3 linked regions of the Homo sapiens genome follow. Changing the gene in region 2 together with the main gene of any one other region gives a genetic interaction. Each region holds a gene or a part of one and is shown on either strand. Other genes may lie near its edges. The genes, in order: CFTR, ITGB7 and LCK.

Region 1 (3,650 bases), on a different chromosome or scaffold from region 2:
AGGATTCCAGCCAGGTCTGTCTGATTCCAAAGTACATGCTTCTTCCATCATATATTGCTACCTGACAGTTGACAATGAAGATAAAGATGAAGTAGAATATGAGATCATTTTCTAAGGATACAAATGGCTGGAATGGGGACACAAGGGAAGATCAGGAACAACCAAGATGGGGGAAGAATTAAGTCAGTGGTTTTCACACTATGAGCCCCAATACCTAGTGTTCTCTAGAAATATTTCAGTGAATTCACCAACTTCTGATTTGAAATGTATGTATTTTAAAATATTATTTTATAGACAGGAACCAAGAAAATCACACATTCTCAAATGTAGGACTATATGTTAATTTTAGCACACTAGATTGATCCGAACATGATCCTGGGCTGTCAGGCTTGTTTAGTATTCACTATGTAGGAAAGCTTCTGCTGACATCTCCTTGCACATATTTAAACCTGTTATGATCTGTTATTGGTTATCTCTGCACTGCATTAGTGAGCATGTCACTACACCATATGTGGGCCAAGCTCAGTTAACAGCCCATCATATCTTTGACATACCTGTTTGCATGAGGTTTCATCACAGCATAACAGAGTTGTACAACACTCAGGGAACAATAATAAGCCACATATGATATTATCATGGTTTTATAATACTTTATCATGCGTACTTGCTTTAAGGTGATATTGGTTATAGAATTTACCATCAATTTAACAATAGCCTTTCCAAAAAGAAGCACTACATTAACTATACACAGTTTTTAGAAATTAACAATATTACATACTTATTCATGCAATCACCTACCACTTTCTTCTTCAGCATCGTAATTAAAGTTTTAGTCTAAGCGTTCTTCATATTCAGAGCAAAAATATTCTTCTGAGTCACTCTCAGCCTTTCAGAGCTATGAATAGAGTTACAGTGACAAACTGCATTCATAACACCTTCACCTGTAGGACAGGCAGTATAATTTCAAGGCATAATAAAGTGCTGAGCTTAGGCGACTTCTACTTTAATTACATTGCTTAGTATGTCAGACAAACTTCAGACTAAATATTACCTGTTTTTTTTTCAAAACTACATCACAAAGTAATTTATCCCAAGAAATTTCAAGCAACAAACTAAATTTATTTAAGAGTCAACCTTGTGGGATGCAACCAATGCAAATAATTCAGCTGAGGTCACAGGAGTATATATACCTTTATGTATTGCTAAGTTCCCATATTACAACTTATTCCTGGGCCTTGTGGCTGACAAGTTTCTTTTGACATCAATTATAAAAGGCATCTCGATTTCAGAAACATAACACTGTGAAAAACACAACCATGTAGGATCAAGAAAATTACATATAAATGTTATACAAAATCACTGTAGCCTTTACTTTAGAGCACTAGGTTAACTGTTTCTTTGTATTTATGGGAGAGTTATTATCTTTTATTGTCACTGCTATTTGTATACACTGCGGTCCCATGGAAAATTTTATTTGAAAATTGATTACAGTATTGTTTTTTAAAAAAATTGTGAAAAACATTGCCCTGGGAAAATGCAAGACACAAGATAGATAAGATAGAGCCTTTGCCTTGAAGGACACATTAAAAGATGCATATTCCAAAAAAAGAGGCAATGAAATGGTCAACAGAGACTTATAAGTCAAAAATTATTCTGGACAATAATCTAATAACTGTTAAGCTACCATTTTCTTCTTCTGAAAAGTCCATTTTGCATGTCTAAATGTTTCACTTACTTTTAAAATTATTCAGTTACCGAAAAAAAGTTATAGAAGACTTAAAATTTTTTCTAGATTTTATTTTAAACTAAGAAAGACTAAAAACTGTATCTTTTAAAGCATATTGCAATAGAATTTAAATAAAGAATATTTTGCAACATGTAAAAGTTATATGAAATTCAAATTTTAATGTTCATAATAAAGTTTAATTGAAACACAGCCATGCTTATTTGTTTGCATATTGTCTATTGCAGAGACTTATGTGGCCCACAAAGCTGAAAATATTTACTATCTAGCCCTTTACACAAAAAAGTATAGCAATGGTCTTTGGTCGAAAAAGTGATGCTTTTGTGTTGGTATTGTTGTTTTAATTTCTAGAGTTTATAGAGATGTTTAAAATAAATAAAACGTACAAAGGGAGCCCCCTATATAGTTTCTCCACCTTGCTTCCTCTAGAACTGTGGTTGCTAATCCCAGCCAACATAGGCTTCATTTTCTTGTCACACCCATAACCAATGCTGGACTCTAAGGTTTAGCCCTTGAATCACCTCTTAATACAGCTGTCAGTACCCCTGGGATTCTGCCTATTATGCTTAATTTTCACACATTTGTCTGACTGGTATCAAATGAAATTCTAGAGTCCCTTTTTGAAATTATTAAGCCTTCACTAGGCATTTGGGAGTAGATGTGAAGTCAGGTAGGAGGTAGTTGCACCTCTGTAGTCCATGCTAAGAAAGAGAACTCTGCATATTTAACAAAGCTCAAAGTTTTAACATAAAACAAGGATACATAACCTTTTCAAAAGTAATGAAAACCTTCTTTTAACACACACAGAAACCTCATCATAGTAGGTGAGCTCCTATTTTTATTCAATCACTGGAGACAATATCTGAAGTCCCAAGCAGATTTTCATACCACATTGAATTTCTATGATCTCTCATATGTTGTGTCCCGTGATGTGAAAAGCACTGCCTAAAGGAGTGAAGTTATCAGGAGGTTCAGACATCAGTTAGCAGGTTATATAGGAGAGTTCTAAGTATAATTTCTAAGTAGAATTTAACCAGTACTGTCCCTAGAACTCAGCTGCTTCTTCCTAACACTCTCAGGTCACACTATGCCACAATAAGGCCAAACAAGTGGGCACTCTACATATTTATAAAACTGTCACCTCAGACATCTTATATCTCTTACCTAAGACTAAGCTCTAAATCACTTTAATACATTTTCAAATAACCATATTACCTAACCCTGAGCCATATACATCATTTCCGTTTCTGGTTTTGAGAGAAGTAGAGTCACATAGGTCTGCACTCCTGCTCCATGCCTTCTTCTCCGATTAAATTTTCTCATTCAATAAGCAGCACCACTGTCCCCTCTATTATCCAAATCAACAAATATAGATGTTATCCTTAACTCTTCTCTTTCCTTCACCTTCAACTACTAATTGATTACCAAACCAGTTGATTTTACCTCCTAAATGTCTTTCAAATCTCTCTCTCTCTCTCTCTCTCCCCGCCCCCTCCCCCCCACCCCACCCACCTCCACCATGGCCACTCTTTCAGCTCATCTTTTCTTTTACAAAACTGCAACAGTATATGAACTGATTATGTCCCTCTCCTGTTTAAAAGCCATGGCTTTTCACTTCCAGTATGATAAAGCCCAAACAAAGCCTACAAAGCCTACAAAGCCCCCTTACGATCTGGCCCCTGCTAGAGTTTCCAGACCCATCTCCCACAAATCTCTGTCACATATTTTATGTTCCCGTCATAGGGAACTTCTCAGGATATTTTGAAGGTGCCATGCTTACTTATCCTGTCAGTCCTCCACACTACCTGTTTAAATTTTTCCTAGCCCATCCCTACCCTCTTTGGATAATTCTAATTGAATAACCTCCTTTAGGTGTGAATACAAAAGACACTTCCCCCAGCAAGCC
Region 2 (3,364 bases):
AACTCACCAATCATCCAGAACCTCACCCCTTAGTAAATGAAGGGATGGGGTCATGTTAACACCCAACTCCTAGAAACATGCCTGAGGAAGCCACTCAGACTGCTCCAGGAAGGATGGATGGAGGACTACCTCAGGCTCTCATGTCACTCCCTGTACCTGCCACCCATCTTTTCCTGCCTGCTTAATTTCCCACTCCCACCTCCCCCTGCCCGCCTTCTGCCTGTGCTTGCTGGCTCTCACCGTCTGGTTGATTCGGACGTGGTTGCACTGTCCTCGATCCTCAGCCTTACCCTCCCTCTTCTCAGGACCCTCACACTGGGATTCGTAAGAAATGTGGACCCCAGGAGGGAGTGAAGAGTGTTCAAGGGTCACGGTGGAAGACAGGCTCTATGGGAAGAGAGCGAGTGGATAACCACGTGAAGGCAGAAAAGGACTCCAACCCCACCTTATGTCCTCTCCAGGTGTTCCCAATTCTGCCAGCACCCTGCCCTCTGCCACCTGGGGCTCCTTCCATTCTGCCCAGTCGAGGCATTTCTGGAGGGAGGACCCGTGAGAACCTTGCATAGAACATACAGGATCCAGAGGCCTCTAATACAGCATTTCAGTGCAGCTGCCAGCAAGGGCCACTGAGGGTCACAGGCTGGCCAGGTGCTGTAAATGTACAGAGACCATGTTTGTGAAGCCCCACATCAGGACACATAACCTGGGTGCATGCCAGGTCTAAAGGGCAGATTCATTACAGAGTTTATCTTGGGAAATTTGATACTGTCTCAGATTTTCTTGCCATAGGTTTAGGAGATGCTCCCTGTTATCAAGAAGCCTACAGCCTAGTTGCAGAGGTAAGACCTAAACCACTAAGAATTTTTATGGTTCCTTCTACCTGTAAAATTCTATGGTTCTTGTGAAGAATAGCTCTGAATTATTTATAAACTTAGTGAAAGCAGGCTCCAGATCTCACATTGTTTATGTACAGACTGACTGGGGACAAATGCCAGCCCTTCTGTTTGTTATCTTTGTGACCTTGGACAAGTCACTTAGCCTCCTTGTGTGGGTTTCCTCATCTGTAAAATAGGGATGGTAACAGTTATGAAGCAAGGCTTTTGGCAGGGTTAAATGAAGTAGCAAACAGTATGTACACCTAGGATGGTGGGCGCATGAAATAAAAGCTCAGTGATTGAAACTTTCCTTTCTTGCCCAGAGCAGAGCTCCATGCTGTCTGCATGTCAGATGTTTTAAGATTTATGAATGTAAGATTGAACAGTTAATGACAGCCACATGCAGACTATAGGTAGGAGCTGTGGAATGTTAGACCAAAAAGTGACCATTTCCTCTTAGTTCTGCCACCCCACCCAAGGGCCCCTTTCCACCTTTCCCTAGTGCCCACCCTCACCATCTCCCCTTCCCCTGGCCCCTCACATTATAAGCATCCATGATGAGCTGTACCACGTTGCTGGAGTCCTCACTCAGCTCCCCAACTGCAGACTTAGGAATCAGTTTACTCAGCTCCTGAGTTTTGGGGAGTTAAGGGAAATGGTGGGTCACAGCTCTAGGAAAATGGGCTCCCGGAGGTCTGGAAGGAGGGCATATGGGGGACGGAGAATGTATCTTTGGGGGAATTGAGAAAGGTTGGGATGGGGCTGGGGGATCTGACATGTAGACAGCTCTCACCTGGTAGACAGGCAGTGCGGCACTGGTGACAGCAAAGATGGGCTGGATATTTGCTGCAGAGAGGGCCTGGGCTACCTGACCCACAGAAGGGTAGTCCTGGGACAGGGAGCAGGGACAAGGTGAGCCCCACAGGTTTCCCCCACAACATGCAAGGTGCCCTCAGCCCAGGGAATCCAGGAACCAAGGTTCCACCAGCTGGAGGAGCCCTGGAGGCTTGCTATGGAATAGGAAGGAGGTAGGGAATGGGGTGACAAAGGTGTCCTGTCTCGGCAGCTGAAAGGAGGAACTGCTGGAGAAGATGGCAGGGTGTCTACAGGGTGGTTACTGGTGAGGACTGTAAGGCTGGGAGTGGGAGTCCTGGAAGGAAAGAGGTGTGGCTGAAATGGGGAGAGGCAGGGTGACAATAGGGACTCACAAACTCTGTGCTGCGACTGTAGAGGCCATTGCTGTCCAAGTGGCAGTGCCCATCACTGGGCATGAAAATGCCGCCCAACTTCCCGTCCCCAGCTGTATGGAATGTGTCGTCTGAAGTGAACACCAGCAGCCGGGACACATTTCTCCAGCCAATCTGCTCCTGAGTTACAGTGGGGGTGGTAGGCTATGCACCTGGGCATGGCCCTTGAGCCACCCCAGCCAGCTCTGTGAGCCAAGAATGTGGCCAGCCTCACTCTGAGTCAGCTTGTCCATCCCCTTGCCTCCAGTACCTTGCTTCTCCCTGCTCTCTCCAGCCCCCTAAAGAAGGCTGCTGCTAGTGGAGGCTTACTTGTGAATTCGAAAAACATGCCTCCTCCTCAAGATATTTTACTCCAACCCACCAGGTAATTGCTAAATATACAAACTACAGCAACTATGGTATGAATGGCACCCCCTAGAACTGTGCACTACACAACCATAAGGGGCAGTCCTGTTCCCAAACAGACCTCCAGGCTCAGATCCCCGCCCCACCTCCTCACCTGGCAGAGTGCAGCCTGCAGAATGGCATCGAAGCCACCTTCAGGCGAGTCCAGATTGCCGGACACACTCTGGCGCCCCACCTCCCGCTCGAAGGCTTGTGCGTCCCCCGTCAGGGACAGCACATGGTGAAAGCTGAATGGTGACTGGCAGCGCTCCAGCCGGGTGGGGCAGGGGTGGCGCAGTTTGGAGGGTACTGTGCTCACAAAGGGCAGCACCGTTTTGTCCACAAAGGAACCAAAACCTGGGAGAGGAGAGGAATGAAGGTTGTGCCAGAAGTCGCAGGGCAGCAACAGAGGACCCATGAGAGCGCTCTATGGGAAGTGGGGTGGGGAGGACGGTGATGGGAGAGGGTGCACCTAGGGGGCAGGGACCTGGTAACTGGCAAGCAAAGCAGTGAGACCACTGGCTCAGGGAAGTGGCAGGTAGAAGACATTAAGAGGAGGACACAACTTCCTGGGCAAATGGGAACTTCCAGAAGGCGGAAGAAGGCCCGGGTATAGGATATGGTAGCAGCATGAGGCAAAGGAAGGAAATTTGAATAGAGGAGAGTTGGCACAGAATGTGGAGCCAGGGACAGTGGCATCTAGGTCTTGTCCAGGGAGACTTGCATCAGGGCAGGTTCCAGGTTGGTAGGCCCAGGGCAGCTGTCCAGGCCCAGAGAGTGCCTGAGCACAGTCTCTCCAGACGCTGGGTCTCAGGCCTGTAAAACGGATAGTCTCTTGAGTCCTCTCCAGCTCTGACC
Region 3 (3,650 bases), on a different chromosome or scaffold from region 2:
CTCAAAGACCCCTCCACCCCTTAAGCCAGCCTCCCCCAACCCTGGCTCAGCAATACTGAGCCTCGAATTTTGTCCCAAGGGCGGCCACCCCGAGCTGGTCAAGGGCCGCAGGAGGGCTGCGGGTCGCGGAGATCGCCGCTCCCTCACGGACTCCGCCAGAGCAAGGTGGAGAGGGACTCACTGCTCCAGGATGCGGAGCTGTTCCCCCTTCTCAAAGCCCAGATCTCCGTCGTGAGAGGGCTCATAGCTGTGCAGAGCGATAACCAGGTTGTCTGTAAAGACAAGGGGCATCAGGGAGAACCGAGCTGGGATCGGCAGGAAGCCTGGAGTTACAGGGTGGGGGACAAGGAAGGCAAGACCGGGGAGAAAGTAGGTGGGGGAGAGGTGGAAGCCAACAGCCAGGGATCCGCAGGCCTTGTCTTTCAGGCCCTGCTGCCTGGGGTCACCTTGCAGTGGGGAAGCCGGCGGATTGGAGCCTTCGTAGGTAACCAGTGGGTCCCGCACCTCAGAGCCATTTCGGATGAGCAGCTGTGGAGTGGGGGATGAGGGTGGGGTCAGAAAGCAGAAGATTGGGTCAGACCCTGGCCCCCTTCCCCCCTGCTCTGCTCTCAGCCTCTCCAGCCTGGTTAGATGTTATCCCTGAGTTTACCAACTACTTTCTGTGTGATCTTAGGAGATTCCCTTCCCCTCTCTGGGCCTCTTTTCCTTTCTGTATTTCAGGGGAGAGGGCCACTCTATTCTTTCAAGGGCCTGTAGTGCTGGTCATTTCTTTCTCCTGGGTTGCATTCTCTACCCAACTCCCTCACCAAGGCCCCTGTCTCGCCTCTTACCGTGCCCTTGCCATCCAGTGGGACTATGGGATAATGGCAGTTCTCACACACATCGATGTTTTCCATCCAGTCATCTTCCGGGTGTGAGCTGCAGCCACAGCCCATGGTCCCTGAGGGAATGGAAGAGGGGGCTGAAGGGGCTCCCCCAAGATCTGCTCCCCCAACATCAGATATAATGGGGCCTTGCCCTGGAAAGTTCCAAAAGTACCTGAGATTGTGAGATCCTGGGATCCCCATTCACCAGCCACAGAAAAGCTAAAATAGGGGGTCCCAGCTCCAAACCGGTGCTCCCTCTGAGCCCTCAGGCTACAAGTAAATTCACACACGGCCCCTGAGCCCTAGCCCCACCCTCCCACCTGGGATGGGCAAACCGCCACAGGCACCTTTGTTAGTCTAGTTACCCACTTCCTGCCTCTGCCCCCTCCCTCTCCCTCTGCCAGTACCCTGTGTTGGGAGGACCACCTCCTAGAGATGACACACACTTTCCCAAGCCTGGGAGAGACCTGACTTATCAGACCCTCCCCTACTGGAGAGGTGTGCACGCCACACCTCCTATTATAATTCCCCTGTCTAGCTGAGGAGGCTGAGAAAGAGGCTTCTGCTCCCGAAGTCCACCATCAAGCCCCCGCTGTTCCCCTCACACAGCCCACAGTCATCTCACAGGGTTCCTTCAAACACGGGCTTGCTTCTCCCCAGCAGAAAACCCTCCAGTGACTCTGTTGGCCATAACTTTTTTTTTGTTTATTTGCCTGTTTTAGCAGTGGAAATTTTTTGTCTGATGAAATCAAGCAGAACTCCATAGATAAAGTGATAAATGTGTGCCTGTTTTGCCTGAAGCAGAGTGGGGCCCTCACTTTGAAGCCCCCGGAGTCCCTGCAGCTCCTCCTTCTCTAGGGCTGCTCCTCAGAGTGCTTGGAAAGCGCTGTCCTCAAAGTTTAATGTACCATGCATTCCAGACCTTTCATATCAAGATGAAATCCACCTCCGCAGTCTATTCTGCCACACACACACTCTCTCACACACACACACTCACACACACCCTATACATATACACACCCTACACACACACACTCTCACACACACACACAGAGGCACCCCCTATCCCACCTCCACAGAGGCATCCACACACACACACTTTCACATAAACACACACACTCACCCCTCACAGGTACTCCCCCACACACTCACACACAGACTCACCCTCCCACACACAGGCACCCACACTCACACTCAGTAAACACATACACTCACCCTCCACAAGTGCCCCCCCACACACACACTCACCCCCCACACACAGGCACCCACTCTCACACACGTACCCACACACACATTCATGCACACACCCTATACATACTCCCCCTACACACACAGGCTCCCACACCCAGGAACACACACACTCGTCCACACACCCACACAGTCACACCCACATACACACACACACGCATTCACCCCCACACACACGCACTCACCCCACACACACACATTCTCCCCTCCCCAACACACATTCATACACACACACAGGCACCTCCACACACTCACCCACACCCATGCACACATCCACACACTCACCTTACACACACACACAGGCATCCCCTCCATAGATACCCCCACACACCCACACTCACACACACACAAACACCCACACACAGGCACCCCCACACACCCCCACACACACAGCCTGTGTTCTGAACTATTCTTGCCTTTCCCAAACACCCCATGCTATTTTCTTACTTAATGCCTTTGTACTTGTGGTTCTCCCTGCTTTGAAATGCGTGCGCTCTCTCGCTCTCTCTCTCTCTCTCTCTCTCTCTTTCTCTCTCTCTCTCTCTTTCTCTCTCTCTCTCTCTTTCTCTCTCTCTCTTGAGACAGGGTCTCCCTTCCTCTCCCAGGCTGAAGTGCAGTGGCGCAATCCCCTTAGACCTCCTGGGCTCAAGCAATCTTCCCACCTCAACCTCCCCAGTAGCTGAGACTAAAGGTGCACACCATCATGCCCAGCTGATTATTTTTTTGTAGAGATGAGGTCTCACTATGTTGCCCAGTCTGATCTCGAACTCCTGGGCTCAAGCAATCCTCCTGCCTTGGCCTCCCCAAATGCTAGGATTATAGGCATGCACCACCGAACCCAGTCGGCATGCTCTCTTTTGTCCAACTGCTGAATTCTAACTCAACCTTCAAGGCTCAGCTGAAATATTACCTTTTTTTTTTTTCCTGCAACCTCTACCTCCCAGGTTCAAGCAATTCTCCTGCCTCGGCCTCCTGAGTAGTTGGGATTACAGGCATGCACCATCACGCTTGGCTAACTTTTGTATTTTTAGTAGAGACAGGGTTTCACCATGTTGGCCAGGCTGGTCTCGAACTCCTGGCCTCAAGCAATTCTCCTGCCTCAGCCTCCCAAAGTGCTCGGATTACAGGCACCTGGCCTAAATATCACCTAGTCTGAAGACTTCCCAATGCTCTTTGCTTCCCTCTCACCCCAGTCTCCTGCAACATTCTATTCAGACCTCAATAATCAACTTAGACACAGAGTTCCATGATTACTGATTTACATGTCAGCCCCAGGGTCCCACTGCCTCTCCCATACCTTTGATGAGAGTGGGGGTTCATCAAGAGCAGAAGCTGTAGTTTATTTGTCTGAAAGCCACCAGCACCCAAAATTAGTTAATAAATGTCAACTGGAACATGCAGTGTTAATGCATAGAGTCTCCCATCTGCAAAGGTCTTAGAAACCAGCAAGCCTAATCTCCAATTTTATTATTTGTTGATTTATTTTTGAGATAAAGTGTCACTCTCTTGCCCAGACTGCAGTGCAATGACCCAATC

Evidence for each region.
Region 1: changes in ITGB7 (region 2) and CFTR together harm fitness more than expected from each alone (negative genetic interaction), as found in Homo sapiens cells (one study listed by BioGRID).
Region 3: changes in ITGB7 (region 2) and LCK together harm fitness more than expected from each alone (negative genetic interaction), as found in Homo sapiens cells (one large-scale study listed by BioGRID).

What each region holds. Positions count from the first base shown.
Region 1 is NC_000007.14:117,486,475-117,490,124, reverse strand, and holds part of CFTR (cystic fibrosis transmembrane conductance regulator), read right to left. Parts: intron 1-3,650. UniProt on the Homo sapiens protein: Epithelial ion channel that plays an important role in the regulation of epithelial ion and water transport and fluid homeostasis. Mediates the transport of chloride ions across the cell membrane.
Region 2 is NC_000012.12:53,193,958-53,197,321, forward strand, and holds part of ITGB7 (integrin beta-7 isoform a precursor), read right to left. Parts: intron 2,864-3,364; coding exon 2,622-2,863; intron 2,243-2,621; coding exon 2,084-2,242; intron 1,765-2,083; coding exon 1,669-1,764; intron 1,507-1,668; coding exon 1,417-1,506; intron 1,186-1,416; exon of another isoform or gene 388-1,185; coding exon 241-387; exon of another isoform or gene 1-240. UniProt on the Homo sapiens protein: Integrin ITGA4/ITGB7 (alpha-4/beta-7) (Peyer patches-specific homing receptor LPAM-1) is an adhesion molecule that mediates lymphocyte migration and homing to gut-associated lymphoid tissue (GALT).
Region 3 is NC_000001.11:32,271,615-32,275,264, reverse strand, and holds part of LCK (tyrosine-protein kinase Lck), read right to left. Parts: intron 1,145-3,650; exon of another isoform or gene 1,068-1,144; coding exon of another isoform or gene 936-1,067; coding exon 831-935; intron 529-830; coding exon 447-528; coding exon of another isoform or gene 273-446; coding exon 182-272; intron 1-181. UniProt on the Homo sapiens protein: Non-receptor tyrosine-protein kinase that plays an essential role in the selection and maturation of developing T-cells in the thymus and in the function of mature T-cells. Plays a key role in T-cell antigen receptor (TCR)-linked signal transduction pathways.